Regions from separate parts of the Homo sapiens genome. Here region 1 is linked to region 2. Evidence: fine-mapped expression QTL. A gene starts in region 2. The other region holds a variant in brackets. All regions are shown on one strand. Distances are from middle to middle.

Region 1 (3,016 bases), 30 kb after region 2:
AGTTTCAAGTGATTCTCCTGCTCCAGCCTCTCAAGTAGCTGGGATTACAGGGCACCACCGTGCCCACCTAATTTTTGTATTTTTAGTAGAGACAGCGTTGACCATGTTGGTCAGGCTGGTCCCGAACTCCTGACCTCGTGATCCACCTGCCTCGGTCTCCCAGAGTGCTGAGATTACAGGCGTGAGCCACCGCGCCTGGCAATAAATATTTTAAATGATCGGTTTTAATTCTAATAAGGTAAATATCAACGCACATTGCCCACATAAACAGAAGCTCTTTAGGGTCCTCAGTAATATTTACAACTGTAAGGGATGCTGAGACCGAAACCCTTAAGAACTGCAGCTTTGAAGATGTGTTTGTTCTCTTGAGGAGATTTTATTTTGTTCACTTAGGGACAGTTTTCTTCCCCAATTATATACATGTTTAAAATCTACAAAGCATTTGTGAGAACACTTGGCCAGGGCGAGCAAAATGTAAGTATGTGTTAAGTAGGAAAATAAATACCTTCTAAAAATGTGCAGTAACGCATTGGTGTCGCGTAATTTCCTTGAAGATGTTGATTGTCCTCTGAACTCAGGGTTATAAGGGGATTTCTCTGTGTTTCGTGGGACATGCCTTTTTATTAAATGGAGTTCTCTAAAAATCACATGAAGCACGTTGATAGCGTCCATGTTTTTGACAGATAAAAAGAGGAAACGTCTGCACACTGTCCATTTAAACCAGGGAAGGGCTGTGTTTGGTAACTCTCATATTGACCATCATCTTCAGTCAAATGCATTCCACTGAGTCTTTATACAGTCTCACTCATGTTCTTCTCATCTGGTTAACAATTAGCAATGCATTCATTTATTTCATGTAAATGTTCAAAATAAAGGTCACAATTTATTTCCCCCAAAACATGTGAGTCGTGATTTCATGGTCTGGCATGTGGTTCTGAGTTACTCTTGATATCCGAAAACTTTGTTCCTAGGCCACTATTTGCATTGCTATAATACCTGCATAGAGCTTCACAGAGAAAAGCAAGTTCACGCTGAAGGTGGAGATTCACCAGAAGAAACCTCCACAGGCACCAGAAGTGGTCCCAATGCCCTTGGCCCTCCCCTCCCCACCCCTCCTCTCACTTCCCCCTCCTCCACTTTTCCTCCCTCATCCCTCCTTCTCTTCCTCCCCCTCCTCCTCCCCAGTGCCGGCAGAGGCAGGCTACAGCCCTCTCCTTCCCTCCCACTCTCTGTAGCCACCTCTGCTTCCTTCTCCATCTCTGCGGCTCTTTCTAATATGTGTGGACCTGACTTCTGGGCGCTGATGGAAGCGCTGCGTGGACGCATCAGAACGAAAGCCAGACACGCTGACCATTTAAAGCAGAGTGCGTTGTTTTCTTGGAATCTGGGCTCCCAGGAAGGTGGCCCTTTCCCTGTGCTGGGCGACAGCCTCACCTGACAACCCCCCCAGGGCCGACTGCTCCCTGTCTTGTCATCTCTTCATGGGACATGTACTTCGGAAACAAATGTCCAGCACAGTCCTGGTGGAGCCCAGCAGTTCTCATTTCTCGCCTTCATTTTCCTGGGTGGCTCGTTATTTTACTGAGAGTACTTAGGGGTCGTTGGTCGTGGTGCTGCTTGCAGGCTGGTGTGTTTCAGTGTTTCCTGGCCTCTCCCCTGAGTGCGGGGACGGGAGGCACTTTATTAGTGTCACTGATTTTGCTGATGTTTCTGTTAATTTAATTTTATTATATACTGTTGAGAATGCCTTTTTCCTCTGCAAACACATTTGCATACTCCAAGTGAGTTACTGCGCCCTC[A/G]TTAATGAATGGAGCTTGTTCTGCCGTGAGAATGGCCGTGGAGCGCCCTGGAGGTGCCCGGCCCACGATGGGTCGCTTCCAGAACTGTGTGTGCTTGCGCCAGTACTTTCCACTCCCTGTGTGTTTTCTAATAGGAAAAGATGTCACTTAGTGTGAGTGAAATTCCCTCCAGGCCCAGGCGAACATTCCAGAAAGGCATCTTCCCTGGTGCTGCTGGGGCAGGGGAGATGGAAGGAGATCCCCAGAGGGGGCCTGGGGCCTGGGGCCTGGCGCTGTGGATGAGAGGCACTCTGGGGCTGGCTGTGCTGAAGCAGCAGGAGCAGGTGGCTCTGGAAAGGGATTTGGAGGGGACACCCTCTCCATCCTCTCTGTGCCCCTCCCTGTTCCCAGCCCCCTTCCCCCGGCTCCTCCTCCTGCCAGCTCCTTGCTGGGCTGAACCTTCCCTGCCTCCGGCCTCTGTGGAGAAAACCCGGTCCTTCCAGCTTCTTGGAATGCTTCGGGCAGCTCTGGGTGTTGGTGTCTCATCTCTGTCTGGTCAGGGGGACTTGAGAATCTGTCCTTGAGGCCCGCAGGGGTGCTGGGGCTGCCTCCTTCCTGAGAGAGTGCCGTCTCCCTCGGGAGTGGGCTGTGCTTCCACTCCTGCTGTTGCAGGGGCACCAAGAGGGCTGCTTCAGGAGTCAGGTCAGGAGGGAGATCGAGTCGCTCCTCACCCTAGAGCCATCATCAGCTCTGTGGCAGGAGAGGATGGCACCTCTGTGTGCTCACCATCACCAGCCGCAGGGATTCCGGGAGGAGGCATCCAAAGGGAAACTTCCTTGCTGTTTTCCTTCCTTCTCACTTAAAAGGCACCTGCGGTTCCGAGAGCCTATTACAGGCATCTGTTTCCACTACACGGGTGAGTTTGTAACCAAACTGTAGTGTCTGAATCATAAAATTAGTTATTTCTCTAAAAAACCACAATCTTCCAAAAGCTATGTTTAGAAATACTTAAAGTAAATCCCTATGAGAACAAAACAAAACAGAGTAGCTTGTTTGTTTAAAGTAGCCCTCATCCCACCTGACTTGGGTTCACACTTCCTGGCTAGACCGTTGAGCTGTTTGTTTACGTGATGAGAGCCCAGACCCCCAAGAAACCTCAGAAACCCCCCGGGCACGCCCAGGGCTCAACTGAAGGCAAAACGCAACCTGCACGTGCCGCGGTGTGAGCAGTGCCAGGA
Region 2 (2,755 bases):
ACCAATGTCAAAACAAACTGAGAAAGAGGACATGTTTTTAAGTGGACAGGAGAAATGTAAACAGGCTCCGGGAAACGAGTGGAGACGGGCAGTAGTTTCAACTGGTTACGGCTGTTTTCCCCAACATTATGAAAAACTTCGGACATAGAGAAAAAGGGAAAGAACTGTACGGTGAACACCCATATACTTGCCACCTAGATTCTACCCTTAGCTCGCTTATCCCTGCCTTTTCAGGTATCTACCCGTAACTCCATTCGCCTTCCTTTTTGTGTGTGTCCGGGTGAGTTGCAGACGTGGCTGCGTCCACTCCGCGCTCCCTGCAGGCCCCAACGCTTCATCGCAGCGCCCACTTTTTCCACCTGACCCGGCGAACACCGGGCGGGCCGCTGGAGTTTATCAGCTCCAGGACAAATCTGCCTCTGACCACCACGTTTGCTGGGACATCTTTGGGACCGGAGGTTTTCATGTGCATTCTTGTTTCTCATGCCTTTCCTCCTCTTTATCATCTTCCCCGCCACTCATCCATCTCTAGTGTTTTGTTCTTGGAGTCACGTGGTCCTCAGGCTCTGACCACAGCAAAAGAAAAGCTGGATGCTGGAGCTTAAGCTGGGATTTATACCCAAGTCAACTCTAAGCAAAACGGGCCTTTTTAGAGGCTGTATTTGCATGCTGTAAAATCAGTCGGTGTACTAGGCTTTGTTGCAGAAATCCCCAATATACGTTTCCTCTGCGGCTCCCCGTAACCACACACAGGAACGCTTGCCTTGAACGAGGAGAATGCACTTCCAGTCTCGTCTGCTAAGCAGTTGACTCCTTCACCCAATAATTTTGATATTTAAATGTCTCATGATTATCGGTTACCATAAGAATATAAACAATGTATTTTCAGTTTACATCCTCCCCTGCCTGTCCGCTAAATAAGAACCACTGGGTACTCCTAATCGCTGAAGGTTTCGCACACCATTGCCTGCCTCATCAGGGCCCTAGCTCTAGCCTGCGGCTGCAACTGCATGAGGCTGCACCTGCCGGCGCAACGGGGCCGCTTAACTTTTAGGCCATTGATGAAAAGTCAAACAAGCGCACAGTACTCGGTGTAATCAGGGGCATTTTTAGCGAGATACCTGGGATGAAAACGGGTGACCACCTGAATCAGAGAGCAGCTCCGGCGCACCCTCTGCCCCGACCCGCGCTCCCCGCCCCCAGGGCGAAATAAATACCGGGTGTTTGGCGCCGCCAGAAGCCGTGCGCATGCGTTAGCGCTAAGCGGGACGTTGCGCCGGGTCAAAGGCCAGCGGCGCAAAATGGCGGCGGCGATGACCTTCTGCCGGCTGCTGAACCGGTGTGGCGAGGCGGCGCGGAGCCTGCCCCTGGGCGCCAGGTGTTTCGGGGTGCGGGTCTCGCCGACCGGGGAGAAGGTCACGCACACTGGCCAGGTAACGGCCGCTGGGTACAGGATGCACCTTCCTCCAGCCGCACCTCGGGCGACTGGTGGCAGTGGGCTCGCCGGGCATCCGCGGCCCTGGTTCTGCGCCGGCAGCGCAGGTCGTGGTAAGGTTGTGCTGTCGCTCACGCGCCGGGGAGGACGCCCGCGAGTCGGGACGGTGGTGGCAGCCTGTAGCGGTGGGTCTCGTCCTTCCAGGGCCTGCGGGCTCTGGAACGGGAAGTCTCCCCAGCGGGCAGCACTTGCTGTGGACTGGCTGCCCATAGGCGATTTGTGGCAGCCGATTATTTGGGTCAGAACGTTTAGAATTTGTGTAATATTCAATAATAAATTTTAGTAACCTGAGAAGTCGGTTGTAGTCCAAGGCACAAAAAAGCCCTAAGCCAAAATGAAGAACAAAGGTACCTGTGTATACTGGAATGTGCCCTAGTAGATTTAATGGGGGGATAGTAAAGCTCTCAGGCCATATGCCAAAGAAGGTTGGGGGCGGTTCTCCTCGGTCAGGATTTGTCTCTCCTCCTTAGCTCCACCTTCCCGGGCTATGTCTCTGTGCTGCTCTCTGATCCAGGTGACCACCCGTTTTCATCCCAGGTATCTCGCTAAAAATGCCCCTGATTACACCGAGTACTGTGCACTTGTTTGACTTTTCATCAATGGCCTAAAAGTTAAGAAAAACACTTTCCTGTAATATTTATGATTGATATGAAGTGACTTTCAGAATTAGGCCGTAAAAGTCACACATGGTCTTTTTGTTTTTTTCCAGGTTTATGATGATAAAGACTACAGGAGAATTCGGTTTGTAGGTCGTCAGAAAGAGGTGAGTAAAAAATCTAGTGAAGAGAGGTAAGCTTTCCTAAAACTTTTATGTAACCAACAAGAAATAAAAATTAATATATAAGATTTAAATAAATTTTCCCCATATTGCAAGCACCCTAACAGTTCTGGATGGGGTTCTTCCTTTCTTAAAATCTTAATTGTGTCTATTTCTGACTTGTTTCCCCCTGAAATACATAACATTGTAGCCGTAGTTCTGGTTTGCATATAAATGGAAGTGATCTTTTTTAAAATTCTTGTCCCTTATTCTCCTGAGACTCTCAGATTTAAGTAAATCATATCAACTTTAAAAAAATTATTCTTTTAACCACCTGGAGGTGTGTTTTTTATAGTTTTCACCAAATAAATTAGTGTGTGTTTTTTACAGGGACTTACACTGACAAGCTGAAAATGGCACATGAGTTTTTCTTCCCTTAGTGGGTCTGTTAGCTCTATGCATTGTAAGGGAAGATCAGTTCAGGTGCCTGTGAGTGACCACTG

What was found. PIP is the estimated chance that this variant, and not a neighbour inherited with it, causes the effect.
Region 1: its variant is the best candidate, but not a certain one, in a credible set for the expression of NDUFS6 in whole blood (TOPMed, PIP 0.62).

What each region holds. Positions count from the first base shown.
Region 1 is chr5:1,829,595-1,832,610 of GRCh38, forward strand. No RefSeq gene overlaps it. Among named protein-coding and RNA genes, the nearest start is that of LINC02116, 25 kb to the right of the region's middle. RefSeq lists enhancers at 1,579-2,272, 2,273-2,966. The variant A/G (reference allele first, on the strand shown) is at 1,800.
Region 2 is chr5:1,800,117-1,802,871 of GRCh38, forward strand. It overlaps NDUFS6 (NADH:ubiquinone oxidoreductase subunit S6), which reads left to right and starts at 1,291. Exons shown (of 4, transcript NM_004553.6): 1 at 1,291-1,433; 2 at 2,205-2,258. The coding sequence starts at 1,302. It also overlaps a transcript of MRPL36 not described here. RefSeq lists enhancers at 681-730, 791-920, 1,100-2,087, 1,531-1,670.